3 separate regions of the Homo sapiens genome follow, and regions 1 and 3 are each linked to region 2. The links come from fine-mapping of genetic effects on gene expression. A gene starts in region 2. Each other region holds a variant in brackets. All regions are shown on one strand. Distances are from middle to middle. Region 1 overlaps DISC1 (DISC1 scaffold protein). Region 2 holds the start of NTPCR (nucleoside-triphosphatase, cancer-related). Region 3 overlaps PCNX2 (pecanex 2).

Region 1 (9,971 bases), 980 kb after region 2:
AAGGTGCTGAATCTCTCTGAGTCCCAGTTGCCTTACATATTCTTGTTAATAATAGCGCTCACCCCTCATTGGGTTGTTGGGAGGCATACAGCACATAATCTCTTTAAAGTATATAGCAGATTATCCGATGCACAGATATCTTGATGAAGGTTAGTTATTGATACTATCACTGCCTGTCATTTTCAGACATTTCCAACAAACATTTGAAAAATGTCTGAATCAGTCTCTCTACCATGATCATTGCAATCCTCTAAAAGGTATTTGTGCCATAAGTATTAAATATTCCATTTTTAAAAGCTCTTGTTTCTGTTTGATTGTTTTGATGGTTTCCCCAGAGAGTGAACAACTTTAGCGTCAAAGGTATGGAGTTAAGCCCAATACGGGGGTTATAAAAGCTCTATCCCAGGAAAGTAAGTGGCTGGCCTCTCAGCTTCCAAAGATTCCATAGTCTTTTTCCCCAGGATGAGTGTCTATGCTCCTTGTTTGTTCTTCAACATGCAACTAAGAATCAGAACTCTTATTATCCTATGTGAACTGGAAAGAGATCTTCCTTTTTCTGTCCCAAAGTGACATCATCCTCTGAAGCAGCCACAAGAAAGGTCACCCCGGCTTTTTCAGGAACACATTAGCGGTGACTGTTCTGTGCCCCATTCCTTCACAGAAGCACTGCATTTTCTGCTCAGTGGTGGCAACAGGATCCCTAGCGGGGCTTAAAGTGAGATTCACGGCTGACACCCAGAGGCTATGAAATAATCAGCATTTTCAAAAACATCCCTTTTCCTGTATACTGTTCTCAAGTTAATGTTAGGCCCTGGAGTCATGCTGGAGCTGGAGATGGGATTCACAGACCCATTAATGAACACTTTGCACCAAAATAGTTAGGTCCCTTGCTCCTGGCACCTGTCCTGGTGAGAAAGGGAAGCACAGTTGCCCGCTGCCTGGCCTCACCTCCTGCCTCAGAAGTCAGAGAACTTAGGAAGAAAGTGCAGTGAGCCATGTAGATGCTTCATAAGTAAACTAATGAGCATAGGCTAAAATATTTCATTTTCTATTTGAATAAATGTATGCGGTACAAGGGCAATTTTGTTACATGCATAGATTGCCTAGTGGTTAAGTCAGGGCTCTAGGGTACCCATCACCCAAATTATGTACATTGTACCCATAAGTAATTTTTCATCATCCACCCCCTCTCACTCTCTCACCTTTCCAAATCTCCATCGTCTATCATTCCTCTCTCTACGTCCATGTGAACACATTTTTTAACACCCACTTAGGAGTGAGAACACACGATATTTGATGTTCTGTGTCTGGCTTGTTTCACTTCGGATAATGACTTCCAATTCTATCCATGTTGCTGCAAATGACAAGATCTCATTCTTTCATTCTTTTTATGCATTTGTATTTTATGCATTTTATGTATTTCATTGTGTATATATGCCAAATTCTCTTTATCCAATCACCCACTGATTCCATATCTTTGCTGTTGGAAATAGTGCTGTGATAAACATACAAGTGCAGGCTTTTGATACATTGATTTCTTTTCCTTTGGGTAGATTTCCAGTAGTGGGATTGCTGGATCAAATGGAGGTTCTATTTTTAGTTCTTTGAGAAATCCCCATACTGTTTTCCACAGAGGTTGTACTAATTTAAATTTCCACCGGCAGTGTATAAGGGTCTTCTTTTCTCTACAATACATCTTCATCAAAATCTGTTATTTTTTGTCTTTTAGATAATAGCCATTCTGACTGGGGTACAATGATATCTCATTGTGCTTTTAATGTGCATTTCTCTGATGATTAGTAAGTTGAGCCCTTTTTCATATACCTGTTGTCCATGTGTATGTCTTCTTTTGCAAAATGTTTTCTCATATTAAAACATTTCTTTGTTTTTTGTTGTTGTTGTTGTTGTTATTGTTGTTTTGTTGTCTTTTGAAATTGAGTCTCTCTCTGTTGCTAGGCCTGGAGTGCAGTGGTGCGATCTCAGCTCACTGCAACCTTGCCTCCCAGGTTCAAGCAATCCTCCTGTCTCAGCCTCCCGAGTAGCTGGGACTACAGGCATGTGCCACCACGCCCAGCTAATTTTTTGTATTTTTAGTGGAGACGGGGTTTCACCATGTTAGCCAGGATGGTCTTGATCTCTTGACCTCGTGATCTGCCAGCCTCAGCCTCCCAAAGTGCTGGGATTACAGGCGTGAGCCACCACACCCGGCCTAAAATATTTCTTAAATTCCTCCATAGGATTTTGAATTTCTTGAAGAAAATTACTATATAGATTGGTATTATTGATTCCTTTTATTATAATACTAAGCTAGACTTAAAGAAACTGGCAGAAAAAGCACTGGTTAGCAAATCATAAAGTTGACAAAATTAAGTGTGGGTATAAGAATTTAAATTCATGCTTCCGCCCTTCTGCTAATTATCTCCAGGTTTTTCTAGGGATTCTTATTACGGAAGTTAAGCAAACGGAAGCATCCACTAAAGTGCAGATAAACCAACTTTCTCTCTTAAAATCTATGTGAAAAGATCTGCTTATGAGGTGGCTGATGAAACCACATCTCTTGCCAGATTTTTACTAGGCTTATTTTCACATTTTTTGAGGACCTGCACATAGGCTTGCATTTATTTTCCTGACTTAAGAAAAAAAGACCAGTAAAATGGTCCGATTAAGGAATAATGTTAATTTTTAAAGGTTGTTGGGTTTATTTTAAATGATATCATATTTCGGCATATTTGTTATTGTTGTTGTTTTCAGTCAAGCTCAAACTCTGAGGTGATGCTGAGCTAAACATCCAGGGAGAGACTCACACCTCCCACTCTTGAGACCACGGGAAGGCCAGCCCCGCACCCGCACATGCTGCCCTCCCCATTCTAGTCCCAGACACCCCAATCATGGTTCTCTCCTGCTGCTTTGACTCACTTGACCCTGTTTAGTGTGTGAGCTTTGGAGATGGTGACTTGAGGAGTATGGCTGCAAGAAATACCATGTTGCAAACATAAACATGTACCTCTTTAAGAAAAAAAAAAATCCCCGTCAACTCAGAACCACAAAAACAGCCACAGCTCTTCAGAGAAAGATGACACATTAGTTTGGAGTGGGTGTGAGGAGGGTACTCCGTATCATAACTTGCCTGCCAATGCTTAAACAGCTGGCTTTTCTAGCTTTTCACTTTTGAGCCCTGAAAATAGAGTACTATCTAGATGGTCTCCTTGCTATTACTATTAATACGACTATTTATTTAAAAAGGATGTCCCACTCCCAATTAGAATTTTACAATCTTTGTTTGTAAATTTAAAAAAATGCTAGCTCCACTGTTTGGGCATGCGGAGGGAAACCTATTATAGGCCTAGGAAAAATGCATGTGATCACACAGTGAATACAGATCTGAATGCAGGACTGCCACGGACAAGACAAAACAACTGATGCTTCGGTGGGTTGTTGTTGATGATGTTTATCAACCGCATTGTCGAAGATGCTTGTTCTTATGTTTTGAAACCAGATCAACAGCATTCATGATCCAAGTGATGTGGTCAATTTGAAGGACATGGGAAAAGGCTTCCCTGCCTGAAGTTACTCTTGGACCAGTAAGCCCTGTCCCTCAACTTGCTGCTTCGAGACCTTTGCATGAGGTTGTAGCCATCTTCTAAATGTGTATTTATTCTTCCTTTAAAGAACAAGACATTGGCGGCCGGGTGCGGTGGCTCACGCCTATAATCCCAGCACTTTGGGAGGCCAAGGCAGGCTGATCACGAGGTCAGGAGTTCGAGACCAGCCTGGCCAATATGGTGAAACCCCATCTCTACTTAAAAATACAAAGATTAGCCAGGCGTGGTGGCGCACGCCTGTAGTCCCAGCTACTCAGGAGTCTGAGGCAGGAGAATTGCTTGAACCCAGGAGGCAGAGGTTGCAGTGAGCTGAGATTACACCACTGCACTCCAGCCTGGATAACAGAGTGAGACTCCATCTCAAAAAAAAAAAAAAAAGAACAAGACATTGGCATACTAGTATACTAGTCTTACAATTCTCAAAATTACAATTGACTGGAATCCATCAAATGAGGCGATGGGGTCAGGTTGTAGAGGAAAGAGGAGACGCAGCCCAATATTACGGGTTTCACAGAGGGCCCGTGTACCCTATAGGTACCATATGGTCACCACTCTCAGTAACAGCTTATTTGCTTTTTCCTAAACCTTATAACCAGTTTCATTTGTTTCTTACTCTTGAGTTCAGGTAGTGCTAGTTCATCATAGACTGGCATAGCAACAGGCTAAGACATCAACTGCCATTTTCTTTATCTGCCTCTAAAATCCTATGTCGTGAGGTCTAGTGGCTGTGATTAACAGTCAGAGCTGGAGATTTATGCATGGAATCTGAAGCCAAATGAGCAGTCAATTTGTTTTCAGGAGTCTGTCTCTTGAGATTTGTATCTCTGGATATTGTCCCACTGAATTCTTCTTAGAGAAGAATCCTTCTTCCTAGGTAGACTAACATAGCTGGAGATGAGAAGCCAAGCTCTCATCATCACAGCTGCTATATAATGCCCTAAACACTCACCACCTGGGAAACAAAGATGGGGCCATATTCATTCCGAAATCATACAGTTACACTTGACTAAACTCTTCCAGTTGAAAGGCTTCATAGTCACTTACAGATCTAAGGAACCAGATGAAACATACTCCAGGTGAGCCCCTGCCCCTCTGGCAGGCAGAAGGGCAAGACATCTTACAGAAGCACATCTCTCCTTCATGCTCCAATAAGCCACACAAATGAGCACACTTATGCCAAAGCAACCCTCTAGAACAATTTCCATTTGGTAACTACTAGAGTTGACAAATGCCATCAACAAAACAAAAGTAAATTCTACTGAGCAGCAATAAATCAAGAAAATTCTAGAGACAGACAGTCAATTAAAAGAGACAGGCTTCAGTTCATTTGCAAAGTGAGACCGGGCAGC[G/T]TAATTACCGCTCTGCACTGGTGGAACGCCTCCATTGCAAAACCACAGCTGATAACCAGCATGTTCGTTATTTTCCCATTTACAGAATAATAAAGGAAATAACTCAGTCAAATGACTTCGTGTAATTGTCACAAGTCATCCTGTTGGTGATTCTCTTCTTTTTCTTAGTCCGCTAAATCATTGTATGATTTCTACTGGGGAATTTTTTTCTTAAAGAAGCACAACTGAAAGTCCCTGCTTTTGTGATGAATGGGAGCTACAGAATTATCTTCTGAGGCTTAGCATACAATACGATCACATAAAATTCTCTCAGCTCGAGAAACTTCATCTTTACATCAGCAGCAACAGAAGGAAAAAAAAATGTTTTCCGCCTGAGGCAGTTGTGATAAGGGATTTAGAACCCATCCTGGTGTCAGCATCCAGATATAATGGGATACAGCCCAGCACCTAAAGTGTCTGCAGCTCGCTCCCTTGTAACTAATGTTCTCACAGCTGTTGTATGACTCAGGGTGGCTGGAGAGGAAGGGGAAGAGGGAAAAAGGAGCAAAATGAATCATAGAAAATGTTGCATGTAATATTTTGTCTAACCTACATTTGCCACGGCTGCTGCAGAACTGTCAGTAAAGTGAGATAAGGACATTGAGCAAGTCTCAAAAATGACTGCATGCTAGAACTGAGCATCTGAGAAATTCCATGAGGGGTTTTACTTTTATTAATCATGTGTCTGAAGCTAACAGGTTCATACCATGTTAGCAAATTAAACTATCATACAATCTTGACGACGCTTCCTCGAATCATTAAAAAGTCTTCTCATTTAATTAATGACAAATTTGTTATCTACCTACTGGGGTTTCCATTGATACAGCAATTAATTTTTCTTTAAGATTTCCTAACTCCTAGCCAAATGCATCAAAAACACTCAAGCTATAATGGTTTATCTTGAGTTTAAAAAAACCATCTAAGATTGAACATTCACCATTAATTAATTAAACTGTCTTTTTAAAACTGTAACAGGTGCCATGAAATGTGCACACTGTGAAGCACATTGACATATCTGGGGATAATGGGTGCACAGGCTCATAGAGCACCATGGATATAACCTACACAAGACACTGCCTTCCTTAGCTCAGTCTCTTCCTTAGCTCAGGCCACGTAAAAATCACAGCTGAATGTCTTTCTGCCAACTTAAAGAAAGAGGAACCCTCTTTTCTCAGTCACTGGGCACCTTGCCAAGTCTCAGACCTTCTTAAATATTGGTTGATTTCTCAATTGATCTCAGTGGGCAGAGTGATCTTATCATTGCTTTACAGCAGAGAAACTTTGGGTTGAATTGCGCAAACCACAGTGGAACCTGTTTAATGAACCCTTTTCTTTTAAGTGATAATCAATCTCCTGTCTATTTTCTATTCTATTAGTGAAAGTCATGGTCATCTTTTTCTTCAGGCTATCTTTCAAAAACACCACCGCATTTGATTAAGTGTTGAATTATCAATGGCAAAGAAAATGATGACAGGCAACTAAGACCCCATGGATTCCATCCTTGTAGTGCTACCCAGATTCTTCCCATGCAGCTAAGTCCTGGGAAGAGGGCCCTCACCAGACAAGCCCACAGGGCTTCACTTCTAATCTTCCTTCTTCTTCTTTTCTGTCCATGCCATTCTCTAGGGCAATATTTTTGCTTTCTCCAAGGAAAACACCAGAAAGAAAGAAACAAGTCATCATGATCAGTGGCCATCAGAGAAATGCAAATCAAAACCACAATGAGATACCATCTCATACCAGTTAGAATGGCGATCATTAAAAAGTCAGGAAACAACAGGTGCTGGAGAAGGTATGGAGAAATAGGAACACTTTTACACTGTTGGTGGGACTGTAAACTAGTTCAACCATTGTGGAAGACAGTGTGGCAATTCCTCAGGGATCTAGAACTAGAAATACCATTTGACCCAGCCATCTCATTACTGGGTATATACCCAAAGGATTATAAATCTTGCTGCTATAAAGACACATGCACACGTATGTTTATTGCAGCACTATTCACAATAGCAAAGACTTGGGACCAACCCAAACGTCCATCAATGGTAGACTGGATTAAGAAAATGTGGCACATATACACTATGGAATACTATGCAGCCATAAAAAAGGATGAGCTCATGTCCTTTGTAGGCACATGGATGAAGCTGGAAACCATCATTCTCAGCAAACTATCGCAAAGACGAAAAACCAAACATGGTATGTTCTCACTCATGGGTGGGAATTGAACAATGAGAACACTTGGACACAGGAAGGGGAACATCACACACCGGGGCCTGTCATGGGGTGGGGGGAGAGGGGAGGGATAGCATTAGGAGATATACCTAATGTAAATGACGAGTTAATGGGTGCAGCACACCAACATGGCACTGGTATACATATGTAACAAACCTGCAAGTTGTGCACACGTACCCTAGAACTTAAAGTATAATAAAAAAAAAAAAAAGAAAGAAAGAAAGAAACAAGTATATTGGAGTATCTTCACCCCAAAATGCTGTCTCTGAGGTCAAGACGATTTTCTTTTGAGCTCCACTGAGGGTCAAGAGGAGGGGCCTTGGAGCTCCCCAAATCTCAGAAGTGATGGGAAATCCTCCCCAGCACCTGAGCTCTGGAGCCTGGGAACTTTGAGCTCTGTCAATCTCAAAAACTCCAGAACAAGCCAGATCCATTCTGAGAGCAGCAGTGTGCTCTAGGATCCCTGCCACTTGACTGTAGGAACCACTGAAGGCTCTAAATCTTCTGTCACAGCCATTAGCAAGAACTCAATTACCTCATTTCTTTTTCTTCCCACCCTCTGCAGCAGGTGCTAACAGCTGGCCAAAGGGCAGACAGCAAAAAAAAAAAAAAAAAAAAAAAAACCGCTGAGTGTTTGGATAATCAGGAGGTTTGGCAGATCCTTAATGGAGGGTATTAGCTACAAGCAAACATCTCTCTGCTCCCCACAATTTCACCAGGAAGATAAGGTATTCTCTTCTGTTTTTATAAAATAAAACTTGTTTTTTAATGTAGAGTTTCTTGGTTTCATAATTTCCATGGTGCCATAATTCCTACTAGTACATACTAGTGATCATTGATTAATCCCTTATTATATATAAGAAATAGTTTTTATCTTATTCTACTGTTATCCCATTGTTATGACAGAAAATCAAGTCTTTAAGAGCTGCATTAACCTGGTAAAGGCCCACAGCTCAGAAATGGCCACCCTTGAATCTAGACTATCTGATTCCAGAGCTGGTACTTGAAAATAACAATCCTCAGGAGAGGGGTTACTCATGAGGCCCCTTCATGAGCCCCTCCCTAGATGAAGCTTCCAGATCGACCACAGGGAGTTGGCGGTGGACAACACTGCTGCCAACCTCAGGGGTCTTCATTACATAGGGAAACAGAAACAGGTTTTTGTGTGTGTGTGAGAGGGCTTTTTGTTTTTGTTTTTGCTTTTTTTTTTTTTTTTTTGAGACGGAGTCTCGCTCTGTCGCCCAGGCTGGAGTGCAGTGGCGGGATCTCGGCTCACTGCAAGCTCCGCCTCCCGGGTTCACGCCATTCTCCTGCCTCAGCCTCCCTTGTTTTTGCTTTAAAAGTGATGCCTCAAGAGGAAGGACACCTTTTATATTAATTACTGTGACTGGTACGTCTGCTCAGGGTACCGAGAAGGGAAGAGTTGCCTCCGCCTCCCATGTTGTGGTCCAGATGTGAAGAGGCCAGTTCCAATTCGGGGTTGGCGGCTTCTTTTCTTGTTTTGAAGGAAAGGCTTTCCTAACACAGGGAGCTGGAATTCTAGAAGATGGAACTCTGCTTTCTCTCTCCGAAGAACTGCATGCAGATTTTTTGAATTGATCTGAGTACTCTGGAAACTAAATTCCATCACAAGTGAACATTTCCTGGGAAAGTTATTTCTGAGTTAAAATTCATTACATGGGTTCTTATAGAATGGAAAGTATTATAATGACCAATAGGCCAATGCAGAAAAGTTAATTATAAATTATATCATTTACATTTTACATTGTAAAGTGTTACTTAGTTTTATATACATATCAGTTAATACTTAATTGAGTGTCTAGAATAGTGAACTACTATGGTGTTGAGTCTAATCCCCATCAAAGTGTTACTAATGTTTTTCCTACCTTTGTTTTCCTTCCTTTTTTACTCTTTTTAATTCACGCCATTTTGTTATATTTTATGCAGTTTTTCTCTGCGTATGTTTAGCTTATGCATTATTATTTTAAGCATACTTAAGATTTTTCTGATGAGATAAGGTAAAAGTTAAATGCAAAAATCAATGATTATCAAATTAATGATTTCACTTAACTTTGTAGAATTAAGCGCTTTATATTTTCTTACAGTTTGCATTTCAAACTGATAAGGTAATGTAAATCATTGTTTCTCTTGTAAAATTGGTCAAAATAGTCAAATAGCTTCAAAGTTCAAAAGTGTATAAATCCGACAGTGAATATTTTATGGAGACTGCTATGGTTTAATATTAGAACATAAGTAAATGAATATTTTTTCAACACTCTCTAATTTAAACTGTGTGCACTCATCAGTAAGAAAATTATGAAACTCCAATATTTGTTTCACAAGTGGTATACATGTATTACTACATACATATAAAACATTTTTGAAGATAAAATATAAATGGATGAAATTGAAGCATAAAATAGAAATTATAATATGTTCTTCCCACACTCCAGTAAACTGTTTTGTGTGCACCTGTTTTGGAAACAATTGCTCCAATTTTTGACCCCGGTTCCCGTCTTCATTAGATTGAGAGCAGTTGGCAGTTTACAGTCTCTTTTGGCCATGACACACAGGCTCTGGGAGCCTTGGGTGAGGGAACAGACCTTGGTCTTTCAGGTGCTGCTCACCCTGCTGGCCACCTCTGGACATTCATTAGCAGGGTGAGTTCACCTGGCTATCATTCCACATCAGGCTGTCCTATTGAAATTTTAATAATTAAAAAGTAAACATTAGTTTTTAAAAAGAGAACTGG
Region 2 (9,971 bases):
TGACATAAAATATGATCCATTATTCTTATTTAATGTATCTATCTTCACACTTCACATTAAAATAATGGCACCTGGCTTTCTGGAACATGAACAGCAACACAACAGGATTCTGGCTACAGTAAGCCACAGTGAGCATGCAGCTGGTAGAACTGTGTAGAACATAAAATGATGACATTCTAATCCAGCCCTGGCCATCAGTAACAACTGCTTTAGGAAAGTCACTAAAGAATCTGTTTCATGCAAGTAATGGCATTGCCGAATGTGTAAGCTGCTACTTCTTTTCTGAAGGGCAATTTCAATGCGCCTGCCACAGCACCCTGTAGTTCATGACTAGGAATTCATCCTCAGGAAACATCAACAATACAAATGTGTGAAAGAGGACATTCACTGCAACATTCTTTATAATAGCAAAACACTGAAAACAACCTAAATGTTGATTGTAAGGGAATGTTAACTCATGGCACCATGTATATAATAGCACATAAATACACAGAAATACCATGCAACCATTAAAAAATATACTGCTTATATGTATTTATTAGCATGGAAAATAGACCACAATGTATGAAAATAATATATGGAAAAAGCAGGTTAATAGCAGAAACCATTCCATTATGTTTTTTTTAAAGAATGGTCAAGTACGTGTCTACAGAAAAAAAAAATGTCAAGAAGAATACAGAACAAAGATTTACAATGTTGATTTCTGATGTTCAAATTCCCTGTGATTGTCACTTTCTTCCTTAAACTTTTCTTGTTTTTTTTAATTCTTATACTGAATGGGTCTTACTCTTATCCTAACAAAAATTGCCGTTTATATTTTGAAAAAGATAAAATGGAGCAACGGTAACTATTCCTGTTCACAAAGGGTATACTGTGGGGACTGTATGTTGTGTAGAACATAGTAGAGCAATAAATAGGAAGCATTTGGGCAAAGTCCCTTTTGGCTTCTTCAGCTCTAGGAATCTTCTTTCAGTTAATTTTTTCTTCATTAGTTAAGCTGCTACCCCAATGCTGTCTGGATAAGAAATGACCTCTGCTTCAGGAGACCTCGAGATGATAGCTGTATACCAGGCACAAACAGATCAGAAAGCTCTGGAATTATTTTGGTTCTGGTTCTCCCCTAAGCAGATCCTCAGATAAAGATTCAAGTGCAGGTAGTTTAACCTGGGCAGTGACAACATGATGGACTGGCAGGGAAGAAATTCAGAAAGGGAAGGGAAGGACACCAGCATGAGGTGCACTGTCAAGCAAGTTCCACTGGGGGCAGCTGGAGCTTCAACCCCCTGGGGAATCCTAAGGGACAAGTCAGGGCAAGTGGCTCAGTTATCCTGTCTGAGGAGTGAGAAAGTAGGGAATTTATCAACTAACTTTCACCAATCACAGGTTGAAGGCTAATCCCAGGGCACAGGAATTCCCTGGCTCTTCTGGCCTGCTCTGTTTGCAGGCCAAGTGGGCTCCAGGGACCAGAGAAAGCCCTCCAAGATGAGTCATGGGTACAGACAGTTGGAAATCGGAAAAAATGCTAAGTGCCAGGGGCACTAAGAGGATATGCAACAAAAAGTGACCTCTTTGAGAGGAGACTTTACCTGATGGTCTGAACATATTGAGAAAACAGAAAGAAACTAGGCAAATAAAAACACCTGACAATAACTCCTAATGGGGAAAAAAGTTATGTGTAAAAGGAAAAAAAAAAAATTAGAGGGCATGGTGGTGCATGCCTGTAGTACTAGCTACTAGGGAGGCTGAGGTGGGAAGATGGTTTGAGCCTGGAAGGTGGAGGTTGCAGTGAGCCAAGATTGTGCCACTGCACTCCAACCTGGGCAACAGAGAGAGGCCCTGTCTCAATAAGAAGAGGGAAAAAAAAGATGGGTAAGGTGGCTCACACTTATAATCCCAGTATTTTGGGAGGCCCAGATGGGAGGATCACTTGAGGCTAGGAGTTGGAGATCAGCCTGGGCAACATAACAAGAGACAGGTCTCTACAAAAAAAAAAAAATACCCGGGTGTGGTGGCATGCGCTTGTAGATCCAGCTATTCAGGAGGTTGAAGTGGGAGGATCACTTAAGCCCAGGAGTTTGAGAATGCAGTGAGCTATAACTGTTTCACTGCACTCCAGCCTGGGTGACAAAGCAAGATCCTGTCTCTAAAATAAATAAATAAATGGAAAAGAAATCATAGATTACTATGTGGCTCTGTTGTGATTGTCTTTACATGGCCATAATACTGTAAACATTGACTAATGAAAATTACGCTGTAACTACATTAAGAAGAGAAGGAGAAAAGACAAAGGTGCGTGGGTTTGAGGACAGGTTTAAGAGAGCTACACTGTAGAATTATTTGAGTCTTTCAACTACGTGTAGGTAAGACTTTGATAAAGCAGAAACAAGAACCACCATCAATACAATCACGGTAACAGGACACCTCCATTAATAAAACACACAGTTGTCTTGGGGTCAGCCTGCTGAGTATCAAACTGCATTCCAAGTTTCAAATAAAGGATTGACAAACCAACTTTCAGAAAACAGTTCTTTGCAATACTTAGGAGTGACTTTAGATAGCAGGCATTTCTCAAACCACCCTCCTCCTCCTCACCCCCTGCTCCCCAACTCCCCCATCCAATGCCTGACAAAATCCCAAAGTCTGCAATATTAGCTGTAGCCTTTGCTACTTACAACTAAACATAATCATTAAAATAAAGTGAAAGAGAATTCTAGATCCAGGGTTACAGCCTTTGATATCTGAACCCACACTAAACTTCAAAATTAGATTTGCCTTGCAAAGGAGCTGAAGAAATCACTTTCTCCACTCTTAGCCCATCTATCTTTTTTTAGCCTATCTGATGCAGCCTACCTGTCCTTTTTAGTAATGCTTGATACATGGGTAGCGCCTTGGTTTAAAAGCACCTCCTCCTACACCTCTCATCTGACCTCAACGCTATCCTGCTTCTCAGATGAGAACTCCACAGGCCACAGGGTTGAGGGATCTGACAGACATCAGGAGGGGACAGCGACAGGAACAAGCAAGAGTGTCTGAGAAGGGCTCCTGTAGGTACCAAAGCTTCTCCACCTCTGGCCTCAGCTGTGGAGGGAATTCGTGGGGATGGAGATGGGGATGGGGGTGGGGGGATGAACTTAGATGGGAAAGAAAGGTTACAACTTCAGTTTCGCTGTCCTCCAACTAAAATTTACCATTTTTTTTTTGCACGATCAATGTAGCAAAGACCCACAGTAAGGAAATACCTGTGACTATCAACAGAAATTAGACATCTCCACTTCACATCGCGGTTGCCGCAGATCTCTTGAAATACCATTTGTGCAGACCACAACGTCAACACTACAGTAGGAGTTACCGCTGCCGCTGGCCCCTGCGGTTTCTGCCCTTCATCAAGAAGCCAGTCTAGGACCCCCTCACAAGTGTGTTCTAATCCTTTAGGCCCTGTGTCTTTTAAATCACGTTTTCCGGGAAGGAGTACAAACTCTTCAGACTACCAAGCCCGCCATTTAAATTGGGAACTTCAGAGGCCGGAGCCCTGGAGCCGGAGACCCTCCCCGACAGCACAAGGTCGCCCGCAGCCCGCGCGCCCCCACCCCCTCGACCTCTTGGAGGTGGGGATCCCCTCAGGGTTACCTGGGGGCCCCGTTAGGAACACGTGCCGGGCCATACTGGTGGGCGGGGGTAGGGGTTGCGGTCAGGGGAGCAGTCCAGGTTGGGGTCGCAATTCAGGTCAGGTCCGGACCAGGGTCGCGACTCAGGACCCGCCCACCGCGTGTCGCAGGCCCCGCCCCCAAGCGGTGCTTTGACCGGAAGCACCGCCCTCAAGACCACGCATGCGCCTTCTCCCGAGTCCCCGGTCCGCGCCTGCGCATTCAGCCCTCGGCATTGGCGCCTGTGCCGCGGCAGTTCCTATAGGCGGAGCGGGTTGTACGGTCTCTTAAGTTTCATTCTGGGTTCAGGGCTTTTGTGGGGTATTTGCAGAGATAAGTGCGTGAGAACGTCAGTTATTAAACTATTGCTGCTTCAAGTCAGCGCCATCACCCAAGTTCTGCCCCTTGACTCCGGACCTAGGAGCTGAAATTGCCCAAGGCTGCCGGGACAGCCCTTTTGTAGAAGGTTTGTGACCTGGAAGCATTCCTCAAAGGGGGATGCCATGTTAATGACTCCAACTTTGTTCTCAAACATTCCTGCAGAATAGAATCAGCTGGGGAGTTTTAAACTTGCTCTGATGCCTGGGTTTCACCTGCAGTAATAGGGAGTGTCAGAAGACAAAATTACAAGTTTAGTTTAAAGATCTAATTGGCTTATATTTAGGATCTAGAATCGAGAAATAGATCATTTCATAAAGCAAATAGAGTGTTCCAATGAGTTGTGCAGAGGAGGTTGGCTTTATGGGCAAAAAAAGGCTGAAGAACAAAACAAAGAGTGGGTATTTCAAAGTTACTTTCCTTATAGGGTTAAAACAGATTGGACTTCGTTATTGTACTGACTCAGGTTAACTACAATCTCCTGTTTTTTGGGAAAACGGGCCTGTTTCAAAGTTCAGTTTGGTTACATGGCACTTGGCACAAGTGACTCCATTCTGGTTTGGTCTAGTCTGCTAGGACCTAGTGCAGGAGGTTAGTCCAAAACAATGGCCTCCCATAAATCTTGTTTAACATGAGTAATTGGTCTTGAGCGAGTCTTGAGCACCTGTATTCTTTTTTCTTCTTTCTAAACTCCAGGAAGTTCCTGAAGTGCGCTAGGGTTGAGAACCACTGGTGTAGGCAGGCTTCCCGTCCTCAGCCATGCATAGGACGCCCAGTTTTCCCTCTTTACTTTCACACCAAAGTGTATAAAGATCTCCTCTTGCAAAGAATTAAATAGCTTCTCCGTCTCACTTTACCACTGCAAGTGTTCCGGCCAACGAATGACGTGGCAGTGGCCTTGGGCCACATTTACCTGTAAACTCTTTCAGTCTAACATGTGTACAGCTTAATTTGTAGTCAGTCGTTCCCCATCCTGGCTGAGAAAGCAGTTCAGTGAGTGCTCAACTTAATTGGTTTCTGCCCACACATGGACCTCTTGGTTTCCCTTTAGCCTGAGACATATGCCAGTCCAATGATTATCTAAAAAAACAAAGTTGGATTTGTAAAATATAGCTGTCATCACCATCATTTCTGCAACATTTGTAATGCTCTATTATTATAACAGTATACTATTTATTATCCCAACTGTTAATGTAGGGCCTTCCACCTTGATTTATTTTGCAGTCCATATATGTTGAATACAGTGAAAAGTTGATATAGTAAAGTAAATTCATAGGAGGAGCTTCCAAAAAAAAGGAAAAAAGTATATGTATCTCTTGTATCAAAAGTACTCGTTTTAAATGTTAATCAGATAGCATTTTCCATCACTGAAAAGCAGTTTGGATTTGCAAGGCTCACCGGAAGTTGGGTTCTTTTGTTTTGTTGCTGTGCCTGGAATTCTGGCATCAGTTTAAGTAGCTCAAAGATACATGGAATTCAGATATGGTGAATCAACGTCTCACAAAACAGAAAAAAAGACTCCATAGTTGAATGTACTTTATCCATGGAAAATGAATTATTTGGATGGTAGTTCCACGGATATCTTCTTGTTAGAAAATTCATTGATTTGATGCTTAATTTCTACAGTTTCCTGTATGTGTTATTAGGTAACAATAACAAAAAATTAAATAGCTTATATCTCTTAGAGATTAACAACAAAAGAAGATGGCATAAATTGAAACAAATTTTAAAATAAATGGGATCTTAAAGTACTGTACCATACTGAATCCAACTTTTGCTTCCTATCTAATCAACATCCAATGGACGGATGTTTGTGTCCCCCCAAAATTCATATTGTTGAAATCCTAACCCACAAGGTGAAGGTATTAAAGTGTGGGGCCTTAAAGAAGCAATTAGGTAATCAGGTCACTAGAGTGGAGTCCTCATGAATGTGATTAGTACCCTTAGAAAAAGGCGGGAGAAAACTTGCTTTCTATCTCTCTGCTCTCTGCCATGTGAAGATACGAGGAGAAGACTGCTCTCTGTCAACCAAGATGAGGGCCTTCCCCAAGAACCCAGTCGTGTTGGCACCCTGATCTTAAACTTCAGCCTCCAGAGTTGTAAGAAATAAATGTTTTTTTGTTTAAGCCACTCATCTGTGGTACTCTATTATAGTAGCCTGAGCTAACACACAAGGTAGAATTAATTACCTAAGGAACAGGTGATTCCAAAGATTTCTTCTGCAACACCTGGGTGCAGCCTCACTTATGACAGGATGCAGTACAGTTCTTTATTAAAACAGTTTGTAGGTACAACTCTACAGTCTCTACAATTATAAAATACCCTAAAGTCCAAAAAACACTGTTTATTTTGTTTTCATATCTACCCTTTTCCCAGAACTGTCCTAATTTTTAAACTGCAAATTCTGTGTCTTAGAAAGCCCCTCAATCCCGAGCAAACCAGGATGAATGGTCATCAAACTGTTAAAGGAACATTTGGGAAGTAAAGCAGAAGGTTTCATGTGGTTAAACAAGATAATTCCTTCTTACAAACAAGTCAAAGGCTAATAATACTTTATTGTAAGCTGGTTGTCTTGTCAGCGGTGGTTATAGAATGACTGTTTAATGCAGTCTGTACCTAAACTCTGAGCCATTCATACCCTGAGTTCTAATCTCTGTGCAGAACAATGTTCTATCCTGCCAGTAACCCAGTAGGACAGAAGCAGAGATGACTCTACACCCTCACCCCACCCCTTCCTACACCGCATGCCTGGATGTCCCCCACGCCCAGCTGCTACTGGCATCCTGTGGCATCTTCCTGGCTGGACACAGAACAAGAGTTCTGGCATATTTAGGGTACAGTTTCCTAAGTACAGGAAAACTGAAAACAGAACAAAGAAAAAGTATGGATGTGAAAATAACCAAGTGGGAAGAGAGACCATTGTGTTGTTTGGCCAGCCCACTGTTCATTTCACTGTATGGAAATAGCAGCTAAATTCTCCTTTTAGGAACCCCCTTTCTCCCAGGCTCTGTGATTGATAGGAGTGAACCTCCCTCCCTTTCTCATTATCCAAGGGGAATACATGACCCAAGCCTGGTCAACGAGATCATTCTATCTTCCCAGCCTCAGTGATTGACTCTGAGGAAGCATGTGACCCGGGCAACACATCTACCCCTAGCCAGTGGGGATCGAGGACAGCCACCAGCCACCATGACTGAAGCAGAGGGACAAGGGGAAGTGAGAGGGGGTGTGAGAGGCCTCCCCCGCATTCTCCCCAGTCACTCCTTGCTCATCCTCCAGGATGGGCTCAACTGTTACTGCTCCCCAAGGCTTTTGTGATTCTCCAGGCCCAGCCTCTGCTCCCTTGGCCTTCCCTTACAGCACCCCCTGATTGCTGGCATCTGCCTCTTCTCCTGCCACCCAGTTATGAACTCCTCCAAAGGTAAAAATCTAGGCTGGGTGCGGTGGCTTACACCTGTAATCCCAACACTTTCGGAGGCCAAGGTGGGCAGATCACTTGAGGTCAGGAGTTCATGACTGGCCTAGCCAACATGGTGAAACACCGTCTCTGCTAAAAATAGAAAAATTAGCTGGGTGTGGTGGCCCGGCACCTGTAATCCCAGCTACTCGGGAGGCTGAGGCAGGAGAATCGTTTGAACCCAGGAGGCAGAGGTTGCAGTGAGCCACTGCACTACAGCCTGGGCAACAGAGTGAGACTCCACCTCAAAAAAAAAAAAAAAGAATCTAAAAAATCTTGTGCTATTCATCTCTTTATACCCAGAATATAGCACGGTACTTACAACACATTCATCCATCACTGTGTACCAGGAAATGTACGTCCTGGAGATACAGCAGCAAAGAAGACAGTCTCTGTGCTGCTATAGCTTATATTCTGGTGGGAGACACAGACAGACAAGTACATAAATAAAATGCCACAGAGTAGTAAGGCCATGGAGGAAAAAATAAAAGGATGGGAAATGAAAAGGGAAGTGGATGTGCTACTCCATAGAAGGTGGTCAGGGAAGATATTACTGAGAATACAGCATCTGAGCAGAGAGTTGAAGGAAGCAAGCCCTGCCGGTGTCTGGGGGATGGCGGTCTAGAGAGAGGCATTGGCATGTGCAGAGGTCGTGACGTGGGAACACATGGCCTGAGAAGGAACCAAGCAAACCAGTGTGGCCGGAGCAGAGTAGGAGAGAGAGATGCACAGGAGGTGAGGTCAGAGGGGCTGCAGGTGGTTCAGGCCTTATAGGCCATGGTGAGGACTCTAGCTTTTACTGTAACAGCTGGAAAGCCATTGGAGGGTTTTGACCAGAAGAATGGCATTATGTAAATTCTTTTAAAAGGATCATCAGTCGTGTGTGTAGGAAATTGGCTACAGAAAGGCAATGGTAGAAGCAGGAAGACCAATCTGAATGCTGCTGTAATAATCCAGCTGCTACAGAAATAACGTTTGTGCATTTACTGGCACATGCTTATCATAGGTGCTCAACTGATATTTTCTTAAGCACATGAGTGAATAAGTGAATTATATCCCCATAGACAGCATGGGACTGTCAGGGAAGACAAAGAGCAGGGGCAGAGCAGCAGGAAAGTCCTACAGGCTTTCCCAGCTTTAAAGGACAGGTGGTACATTGAGGTAACCATCCGATAATCATCCTTGGGTGATGTCCCCATGAGATAGGCATAAGACTTTGCTTGACCAAGCAAGTTGGGCAGGTCACTCACCTACTAGGTGTTCCCCTTCGAATAAGAACAACGGAGCCAGGCGCAGTGGCTCACACCTGTAATCCCAGTGCTTTGGGAGGCCGAGGCAGGTGGATCACGAGGTCAAGAGATTGAGACCATCCTGGCCAACATGGTGAAACCCAGTCTCTACTAAAAATTCAAAAAGTAGCCAGGCATTGTGTCGCGTGCTTGTAATCCCAGCTACTCAGGAGGCTGAGGCAGGAGAATTGCTTGAACCCAGGAGGCAGCAGAGGTTGCAGTGAGCCAAGATGGCGCCACTGTACTGCAGCCTGGTGTTAGGGCGAGACTCTGTCTAAAATAATAATAATAATAAAAGAACAACTGTGTGTTAGTTAGTGCAACATACTAAATATTGGAACAGCCAAGCCCAAGATCACACCACTGTACTCCAGCCTGGTGTTAGAATGAGACTCCGTTAAAAAAAAAAACAAAAACAACAACAAAAAAAACTGTGTATTAGTTGGTGCAACATACTAAATATTGGAACAGCGGAGCCCCACTGGGAAGTCTCTGGTCACAATTCTGTGGTGCCACATCAAGCACACAGACATTGTCCTGTCAACCTCTCTTTACAAAGGTCACCTGAAGTTATAGAGCTAGACTAGGGAAGAGAAGACCAGCTGAAAGAATTGCTCTAAGGCATCCCCAGGGGTGCTGATGGGAGAAGCAGCAGTCTTACCTGTTTTGGGCAAACTTCTAGAATGGCATTCCAAATTTCTTGCCTTTCAATCTGTACATGCCATGCATAATTCCCAAGACTGTGAATATAATAGAAGATTCCTACTCTTGTGATTAGGTTACGTTATATGACCTTAACTTGACTTTAAGATAGAGAGATCATCCAGATAGGCCTGACCTTATCATAAAGTCTGGGCATTTTCTCTGGCTGGTGCCGGCACAAGAAATCAGAGACTTGAATCTGAAGATTCAACACGTTTTTGCAGACTTAAAGGAGAGAGAGCTATGTGGCAAGGGTGCAGATGGACCTTTGGGCTGAGAGCCAGCTGATGTCAGCAAGGAAATGAGGACATCAGTCCGTCAACCACAGAGACCTGAATTCAGCAGAGAATGAGGGCGAGCTTGAATCTGAATTTTCCCTAGATCCCTCAGATGAGAACTCAGCCATTCTAAACAGAAAACCCTGTCACACCATATCTGGGCTTCTGACCTTCAGAACTGTGACCTGATAAAGAGATGGAGTTTTAAGTTGTTACGTTAGTA
Region 3 (9,971 bases), 43 kb before region 2:
CTCAGGTGAGCAGATGGAGGACTCCTAGTCCTATCTTTGTCCCGCATTTGTAAAGGTAAGCTGTTCATTTACATTGTCAGGGTGAAATTTAACAGAACTGTTTTAGAGTAAAGATCTTGGGGCCCACAAGGAATTTCTCTGCAAGCAAATTGGGAGGGAGACAGTTTTGCATGTCTCAGTTCCCAGGCTTGACTTTTTCCTTTGGCATATGAGTTTGGGGAGATTTTATTTTCCTTCCACAGATGCTAGATAGGTAGATAGGGACTGATTGATAGAGGACAGAAAGAAAGCTAGGTAGGTAGATAGATAGGTAAATAGACAAAATAGGTGGTATCCGCTGCTCAAAAGAAAGGAAAAAAGATCTCCCCCTGCCCCACCCACCCCATGCTGTTTACTCTGAGGCCCTGCAGGACACCTGCTGGAGGCCTCCCATGCAGCTCCCAGGCCTCCAGTATCTCATTGTTTAGTTAACATTTCTTATCACATGAAAAATGTGTTTCAGGATCATGGGAGTGACTTTCCAGGTGGGGAAATGCAAAGTAGCTTCCAAATGGTGAAATGCCTAAGCATCTGTCATTTGCCAGTACTTCCAGGTGACTTGTGTGGACTGGAGAAAGTCCAGAGTCAGGGGGGTGTGGCTGCGGGGTGGGCAGGGTCAGAGACAGGGGTCAGAGGTGGGGGTTCCAGAAGTGCTTCAGACCTGGTTTCTTGAAGCTTGGCAGAAAAGAAATTGGAGGCCGGGTGCTGTGGTGCACACCTATAATCCCAGCACTTTGGGAGGCTGAGGTGGGAGGATCACTTGAGGTCAGGAGTTCAAGACCAGCCTGGCCAACATGGTGAAACCCCATCTCTACTAAAAATACAACAAAAAATTAGCCAGGTGTGGTGGTGGGTGCTTGTAATCCCAGTTACTTGGGAGGCTGAGGCAGGAGAATCCCTTGAACCCAGGAGGCGGAGGTAGCAGTGAGCCGAGATCACGCCACAGCACTCCAGCCTGGGTGGGGGGAGAGGAGGGGGAAGAAATTGGAAACACCTTCTTCCCTTTCTTCCTATAAAACAGCACCTGGAACTGGCCTTGCCTGGAAGAGCTGGTGTTCCTTCCACTCCCTGGAGTCCGAACACCATAGGCAGTGAGCATTCCTTGCATTTACAGGAGCAATCACAGCTTCCCGTTTGTGGAAGATGTCAGAGCAGGATCTTTTTTTTTAAATTGGATTTTTAAGTTAAAATTTAATAATCAAACTATACAATCAGCATAGTTTAAAACTCAAAAAGGACTGCCTGGATTAAAACAAAAATCATGGGTTTCCCCCCTTCACCCCCCAGCAACATTCCTAATTCTCAGAGGTTACTGCTTCCAACTCTTGCAGCTGCTTTGTATTTTTGGGGCATCTACCTCCACATATTTAAATGACACGCTTACTCTGGAGCAGGATCTACTAAAGCCTAAACCAGCTGTTAATTTCTCATGAATGCTTCTTAAAACTTCCTGCCAAGGCCACCGCTGGCTTTCTACATTTTACAAGCAAAGGAGCATGCCTGGCTAAATACCCCACACACCACATGCCTTGGCCACACCTGCAGCCTGAGTTTGTCCCAGGCTCTGAGACCAGTTGTTGTCCTGCTTAGGGGGATGGAGGGTTGGGGAGATTTATGAAGCCCTGGGCCAAGCATCAGCTGCTTTGAACTCACCTGCCTTGCTGCCACCCTGCTCTTTCTCTGCCCCCCGGTGTATTCACAGCATCCTTGCTGCAGGTGATAAAATTTGATAACAGTAACAGTTCTCAGGTTCTACTCTACCAACACCATCCTGAGTACTTTCATGTGCACATTCACTGGATCCTCACCATGGCTTTTAGAGATGCAGGCAGTTTCACCCTCCTCATCTTGCAGATAAAGAAACTGAATGTATTAGTCTGTTTTCACACTGCTACAAAGGTACTACCTGAGACTGTGTAATTTACAAAGGAAGGAGGTTTAATTGACTCACAGTTCTGCATGGCTGGGGGGACCTCAAGAAACTTACAATTATGGTGGAACGTGAAGGGGAAGAAAGACACATCTTACATGGTGGCAGGAGAGAGCAAGAGTGAGGAAGTGCCACACTTTAAAACCACCAGCTCTCATGAGAACTCACTCACTATCACAAAAACAGCCTGGGGGAAACCACCCCCATGATCCAATCACCTCCCACCAGGTCCCTCCCTCAACACATGGGGATTTTTTTTGGGTGGGGATACAGAGCTCAACCATATTATTATGCCCCTAGTCCCTCCTAAATCTCATGCCCTTTCACATTTCAAAACCAATCATGCTTCCCAACCATCCCCCAAAGTCTTAACTCATTCCAACATTAACTCAAAAGTCCAAATCCAAAGTCTCATCTGAGACAAGACAAGACCCTTCCACCTATGAGCCTGTAAAATCAAAAACAAGTTAGTTACTTCAAAGATACAATGGGGGAACAAGCATTGGGTAAATGTCCCCATTCCAAATGGAAGGAATTAGCCAAAACAAAGGGGCCACAGGCCCCATGCAAGTCCAACACCCAGCTGGTCAGTCATTAAATCTTAAAGCTCCAAAATCTCCTTCAATGCCATGTCTCATGTCCAGGTCACACTGGTGCAAGAGGTGGGCTTCCAATGCCTTGGGCAGCTCTGCATGGGTACAGTCCCTGCAGCTGTTTTCATGGGCTGGTGTTGAGTGTTTGCAGCTTTTCCAGGTGCACAGTGCAAGCTGTTAGTGTATCTACCTTTCTGGGATCTGGAGGATGGTGGCCCTCTTCTCATAGCTCCACTAGGCAGTACCCCAGTGGGACTCTGGGGGCTCCAACCCCACATTTCCCTTCTGCACTGCCCTAGCAGAGGTTCTCCATGAGAACTCCGCCCCTGCAGCAGACTTTTGCCTGAACATCAGGCATTTCCATACCTCCTCTGAAATCTAAGCAGAGGTTCCCAAAGTTCCACTCTTGTCTTCTGCACACTCTTAGGCCCAACACCACATGGAAGCAGCAAAGGCTTGGAGTTTGCACCCTCTGAAGCAATGGCCCAAGCTGTACTTTGGCCCCTTTTAGCCACATTGGAGTTGGAGTGGTTGGGATGCAGGGCACCAAATCCAGAGGCTGCACAGAATAGTGGGGTCCGTGGCCCAGCCCATGAAACCATTTTTCCCTCCTAGGCCTCCAGGCCTGTGATGGGAGGGGCTTCCGTGAAGATCTCTGAAATGCCCTGGAGACATTTTCCCCATTGTCTTGGCTACTAACATTCTGCTCCTTGTTACTTATGCAAATTTCTGCAGCGAGCTTGAATTCCTCCCCAGAAAATGGGCTTTTCTTTTCTACTCCATCGTCAGGCTGCAAATTTTCCAAACCTTTATACTCTGCTTCCTTTTTAAACATAAGTTGTACTTCCAAACCATCTCTTCATGAACAAATATGACTGAACACTTTCAGAATAAGCCAGGTCACCTTGTGAATGCTTTGCTGCTTAGACATTTCTTCCAACAGATACCCTAAATCATCTCTCTCAAGTTCGAAGTTCCACAGATCTCTAGGATGGGATAAAATGCCGCCAGTCTCTTTGTTAAAGCACAGCAAGAGTGATCTTTGTTCTAGTTCCCAAAAAGTTTCTCATCTTCATCTGAGACCTCCTCAGCCTGGACTTTATTGTCCATATTACTATCAGCATTTTGGTCAAAACCATTCGGCAAGTCTCTAGGAAGTTCCAAACTTTCACTCATCTGCCTGTCTTCTTCTGAGCCCTCCAAACTGTTCCAATCTCTGCCTATTACCCAGTTCCAAAGTTGCTTCCACATTTTCAGGTATCTTTATAGTAATACCCCACTCTGCTGGTACCAATTCTCCATATTAGTCCATTTTCACACTGCTATAAAGATACAACCTGAGACTGGGTAATTTATAAAGAAAGGTTTAAATGACTCACAGGTCCACATGGCTGGGGAGGCCTCAGGAAACTTACAATCATGGCAGAAGGCGAAGGGGAAGCAAGGTGTGTCTTACATGGCAGCAGGAGAGAGTGAGACCAAGGAGGTGCCACACTTTAATACTATCAGCTCTTGTGAGAACTCACCCACTATCACAAGAACAGCCTGGGGGAACCATGCCCCCATGATCCATTCACTTCCCAGCAGGTCTCTCCCTCAACACATGGGGATTACAATTCAAGATCAAATTTGGGTGGAGACCAGAGGCCTAGAAAACTTAAGTCACTGCCCAGTGTCACCCAGCCAGGCAGTGGCCAGTCTGAGATTCATTCCCAGGTGAGCTGGCCCCAGAACTTGTGATCTCAGCCACCTTGCACCATCCCATTGTCCTGGCCCCAGGGATGCTGCTTCGAATGTCCTTGTCCCCAGCCCTGGGAATGAGTTGATGGAAACAAGCATTACTGAACACTGAGTGTGCCGCCCTTGCCTCCTGCCCTCCATCTGTGCAGCTGGCATGTCTCTGCCCAGCATGACTTTGTCCTGTCCCCTGGCTGGCAAGGGTTCCACTTATAAGTGATCTTCCTTCTGGCCCCACGAGCAGGCAAAGCTGACACCCAGTTCTTTCTGAAGCAGCCAGCAGGGGCTCCTTTACTTTCTCACTGTGGTCAGGGAGGGACAGGAGCAGAGCAAGGGACTGTCTCAAGTACCTTTCTGGCTCAAGGAGCTGACATGCTGAGGAAAGAAGGCACTGCAGCCTAGGAAGCTATGCCAAGGCTTTTATCCCCAGCAGAGGGTCAGAGAGCTGGAAGAAGACAGGGGAGATTGAACAAGGCCTGCTACCCCTTTCCCACTTAAAAGAAGGAAAAACCTCTCTCTTGCTATCATCTCTCTTGCTTTTTCTCCCTGGTCTTTCGTGCAGCTCCGACAACACACAAAATCGTAAATCTCCACAAAGCAAGTCAGAGTGATTTTATTTAAACTTAAATCAGTTCACGTTGTTCTTCTGTTGAATGATGGCTTCAGCTCAGAATGTGTGAGTCTGCTTGGGCTGCCATGACAAAGTACCATGGCTCAGGTGGCTTAAACAGCATGAACCTACTGTCTGCCAGTTCTGGAGGCTGGAAGTCTGAGATCCAGGTGTGGGCAGGCTTGGTTCCTCCTGAGGGCTGGAGGGGAGTGGGGTCCAGGACCCTTCCCTAGCTTGTGGTGGTTCACC[G/A]GCCATCTTAGGCATCCCCCGGCCTCGAGAAGCACCACTGAGCTCTGGCTTGGTCTTCACATCATGTTCTCCCTGTACTTCTCTGTGTCCACACGTCCCCTTTTTATAAGGACACTGGTCATCATGGACTCAGGGCCCATCCTACTCCAGTATGACCTCATCTTAACTAATGACATTTGCAACGACCCTGTGTCAAAGTAAGGCCCCACCCTGAGGTCCTGGGGGTTAGGGCTTCAACAGAGGAGTCTGGGGAGGGAACATGATTCAGCCCGGAACACCCACGCGCATCCCATGAGCACCCCTCCCCCGCAGGCCCCCATCTGGTCTGCTCTCTCTCTCACGCCTTCTCTCCCTTCTCTCAGCCCTCTCTTATGAGCCCACATCCCCAGCACACGGTCTCTTGCTGTCCCTCAACAGTGTCAAGCATTCTCCTTTCCAGGGCCCCCTCAGCTGCTGCCTCCTCTGTCCCCAGTGTCCCTCTCCCAGGCTTGCAGCTCCTTCGCTTACTCACACAGCCTCCCATCAAATCCCAGCTTATCCAAGAGACCCTGGCCAGCCTTCCATACAGCACTGCTGTCCCCCTGCCCCACTTTCTCCTCCCCTCCAATCCCTGCCTGATGCATGTGCCTTGTCTGTGGTCAGAATTTCCCATGAGCTGCTCACTGCCCGGCACCTAGGACAGTGCAGCCCACGGTGGACGCTCAGGTGGGCAGCCCTAACTTCTGCAGAGCCTGTGACAGGAGCACATGTGAAGACCACACCACCCTCTTCCCCACTCTCCCCACATCCTGCCAGGTGAGGGGCTGCCTGCATGCACTGGAGCCTCCCCATTCACATGCCCGTCTGGGGGTGCACGTGCCTGCAAGTAGGCCCAAGGTCCGCCCTGGGAGACGACCCTGGGGAAGAGGCCTGTGCAGGCCCCAGTTTGGGGCAGGGAGTTCTGGAGTCCTGGGAACCCAGCACACGGCCAAGCAGGAGTGGGTGGGAGCTGGTTGACGTGCTCCTGTCTCCACAGCTTCCTGGCCCTGTGGGGACAGAGACGGCTGCAGGGGCCACCAAGGGAAACCTCTGAGGTGCTGGGCTGGGTGGTAAGCATGATCTGGGCTCAGCAGACAAAGGTTGGACGAATGAGTGGATGGTTACCCCTCCTGGCCTCAGCCACTTACACTACAGCTTCCCTAGAGGGCGAGGGTGCAAAGCCCTTGGGTCTCAGAGTTGCAGCTGTAGGCAGGTTCTGTCACAGCCAAGAGCAGTGGAGCCAAGAGCTGCCGATCTTGTTGGCTCTCCTGAAATGTACCATCATGACCTTGGTGCCCCAATCCCCCGGCCAGAATCCCTCCAAGATGTGATTCAACTATCCAGAAGGCTCTCTAGCACTGACTGCGACCGGGAGCACAGAGCTTTCATTCCCCTCAAGACACTGCACCTGAGACCCAGTGTGCAGGTAGCCCAGGTTCCAAGGAGAGCAAGCCCAAGAAGGAGGCTACCACAACGGGAGGGGCGGCTCTGCCTGGCCCTGCCCGGGACACTTTGCGGAAACCACCTACCTGCCATTCCCAGCAGGCCATCATTCCCTTCAGGGATGTGAGGATAACTGGATTTGATTTCAGTCTCTGGCCTCCTTCTCACCCTCCTTCTAGTTAAGTAAAACAACCATGCCCGTCCGAGTTGAGACACACAGCTCCCAGAAAGGAAGCCAGAGACCTGCTTGGCCAGTGCAGGGGCGTTAGAGGCCAGTCTCCAGCTATGGGGAGAACATTCCCTGATCCCAGATCTTTGGACTTGACCCTGGAAGTATGGAGGAATCACCTTCCTATTTTCCTAACCTTTAGCTTGCCCTCCAGTCTGCAGTGGCAGCCCCTTGGGCCCATCTACAGGCGCTTGCCTATGGGTCTCAGCCTCTAGTCAAGATATTGATTAATTTTTTGAAATGCTTCTAATGGCCAAGTTTAAGAAACACTGTACCCACCCCGAACTTTCTGAAGCTCACTGGATTTCTAATCAGCGTTTTGGCATCTGGTCAGTTTTGCAGGTTTGTCCTGTGTATCCTTTACTTACATGTTAGTGTACTGGGTGCTGAGCTCATAGAAGTGATACAGGGGTCCTTTGCTGCAGAAAGGGCACATAGTGGAGAGGACCGTGCATCAGACAGTGACAACACAGTGTGCTGAGTGCCATTGGAGAGGTGGTTGGGGGCCTCTCAGAGTGGAGGACCTGCCTCTCTGGGAAGGGCATGACAGAGACCCTTAGCCAAGTAGCAAAGAGTGAGCAGTTTTTTTTTTTTTGAGACGGAGTCTCACTCTTTCACCCAGGCCGGACGGCAGTGGCGCTATCTCGGCTCACTGCAAGCTCCGCCTCCTGGGTTCACGCCATTCTCCTGCCTCAGCCTCCTGAGTAGCTGGGACTACAGGTGCCCGCCACCACGCCTGGCTAATTCTTTGTATTTTTAGTAGAGATGGGGTTTCACCGTGTTAGCCAGGATGGTCTCGATCTCCTGACCTCGTGATCTGCCTGCCTCGGCCTCCCAAAGTGCTGGGATTACAGGCGTGAGCCACCGTGCCCGGCCGAGTGAGCAGTTTTGAAGGGCGAATTTGAAACAAATTCTAACAAGGGTCTTGTTTTACTCACCAAGTCACCAAGACTCAACTCACATAACTGGGGACCCAACTGCCCCCACCCTTCGTTGGTCCTTGCCTCAATTCTGGTCAGGTATCCCAATCCTGAGCCCTTGCTAGAGGCTGAGCGGACTGGGGTCCCTCCTGCCTGAGACCTCACAGACAGAACTCCTCTCCCCAGGCCAGCCACGCTGTGCATCTGCTGCTGCTGGTGCACACAGCACTTTGCACCCAGCTGCCAGGCGCTCACTACGCCAGCCTCATCTAGGTCCTGACAACCTGCAAACGTCTTGCTGGGGTAAAAAGCATATGTCACAGCTGGAAGGGGAGTTGGCCTAGCAGTGGAGGCTGGTGACCTACTTACTGGTGAGCAGTTAGGAATTCATAACTAATCCGAATCCCAGATTGGAGAGGGAGGCTGTGTTCTCATATTACTAAGGAGCTACACCACGATTGTTCAGATAACATCAAAGACAAAGGAATTAAGTGCCACGATAATAAACCAAGGAGGGTGATTTATATGTAAGGTATTTCCATTCAGGTTCTAAAAAGGTTTTCCCTAGAAACATTCATAACTTGGTAATAGAGTTATTTGCAAAATAAGTTAAATTGTAAAATAATGATCTTGAGTAGCACAAATGCATTTAGCATGGTTTGCTTCCTTAGTGCTGTTCCATTTGCAAAATTAATTAAAAAAAAAAAAGAGCAATGAGAAAACCTGAAGCAATGAAATCGGGTGGCGGGGGAGTCCTTGTCTTGCACAGACTACAGCAGGCCACTTCCCTTTGACACACAGTGGGTTATTTGTCCCCTTGTTCCTGGAATTCTCTAGGAAGTTCCCCACCAAGTATGGGTGGTCTTCTATTGAGCATCACAATCACTGACTTGTGGATAAATGTGGAGTATTTTTGGACAGTGATCAGCTTTACGATAGAAATCACAAACACACGTCCGGCCTTGCCAGACACTGAATAAACTAACAAATCGCCCTCCTTATTTTTCATTCTGATTCATCAGGGTCCCTTTCCTCCTCTCCTTTTTCTCTGTAAGAGGAATATATTCAACTACTCAGCCGGGACCTTTCAGGCCGGCCCGAATGCACCCCTCCTGCAGCAGAGGCGGGTGGGCCCCATGCGAGGGGCTGAGCACACTCATCCCAGGGAGGGCAGCCCCGTCCTGCGGAAGCCCCCAGCACTGTGGGGCGAGCGCTCCTTACTGTCAACACACGGGCAGGAGAAAGTGAGATGGGAGCACCAGTGCCCTCTGCAAATGGGCACTCGACCATCACAGCATCCAAACTGGCACTGTGGTCAACAGGAGGCAGAAAGGCCCCTTCAGCCTAGGCCACGGTGGGGTGGGGTGGGGCTGGAAGGAACCCTGGAATCCCCTTCGTAATGTGTATCCCTAAGGAATTGCCTCTCACATGATGTGTCAGTTCTTGGGTTCTCCTGGAGGCAGCCACGCCCGCTTCACAATCACCAGATGCATAATGAATAATGGGCATTTGGGGTGAGGTGGAACACAAGGCAATGCATAGGACGTCCTTTCTGATACTCATGCCTCCGCCCCCTTGTTTGTCTTTATTTAATGCCTAATTGTAGCAGCTGCAGGGATATGCCCATGATGCCGTTCATAGAACCATGATGTCACTAGCTGCTCCCATCAAAATGATATTTTGCAATTAGCCCCTAGTGATCATGGATGCTCAAGTTAAGCAACCCGGTGTTCTAGCCAGCACCCATTTCCTCAGACTGCTTAGACTGCAAAGCTGAACCACAGGCTGCACAGGGCCATCACGCACAGAAGACCCCATGAAGTTATCCTGCTTCCAGCAGCATGGACACAACCACATCTTTGGGGGTAGTCCAGTCCCTTTTGTCAAAAATGGCCTTGTCTAGACAAGTTTCAGCAAAGGCTGGGGTGGCAGGGCCCCTGAGGGGCGAGGCAGTGGGCAAAGGGGCTGGCTGAGAAGAGCATGGGAAGCAAGGCCCAGGCCTGGCCAGTAGTTGCGGGCCTGTAAGGGAAAGCTATTCTGGAAAAGAGGCGAGGGCATGGGCTTTCAGCTCTCCTCCCCTTTCTTCTTTTTTCATGGCAAATAAAAATGACAGAACCCTGCACGTTTTCCTTTATCACTGCTGATCGGATGAGCATGGGAACCAAGGTCCTGAGCCAGGATCATATTTGGGTTTACTTTATGA

What was found.
Region 1: its variant is fine-mapped to the expression of NTPCR in substantia nigra (GTEx, PIP above 0.99).
Region 3: its variant is fine-mapped to the expression of NTPCR in whole blood (TOPMed, PIP above 0.99).

The regions. Positions count from the first base shown.
Region 1 is chr1:231,967,058-231,977,028 of GRCh38, reverse strand. All of the region lies in intron 10 of DISC1 (DISC1 scaffold protein), which reads right to left. All of the region lies in intron 13 of TSNAX-DISC1 (TSNAX-DISC1 readthrough (NMD candidate)), which reads right to left. Among named protein-coding and RNA genes, the nearest start is that of DISC1-IT1, 46 kb to the right of the region's middle. The variant G/T (reference allele first, on the strand shown) is at 4,952.
Region 2 is chr1:232,944,401-232,954,371 of GRCh38, reverse strand. It overlaps NTPCR (nucleoside-triphosphatase, cancer-related), which reads right to left and starts at 3,761. Exons shown (of 5, transcript NM_032324.3): 1 at 3,628-3,761. The coding sequence starts at 3,661. It overlaps LOC107985361 (a long non-coding RNA gene), which reads left to right and starts at 2,823. Exons shown (of 2, transcript XR_001738525.2): 1 at 2,823-3,044; 2 at 3,216-6,152. RefSeq lists enhancers at 1,173-1,382, 1,318-1,817, 2,946-3,485, 3,486-4,027, 3,940-4,039.
Region 3 is chr1:232,986,926-232,996,896 of GRCh38, reverse strand. All of the region lies in intron 32 of PCNX2 (pecanex 2), which reads left to right. Among named protein-coding and RNA genes, the nearest start is that of NTPCR, 41 kb to the right of the region's middle. The variant G/A (reference allele first, on the strand shown) is at 5,159.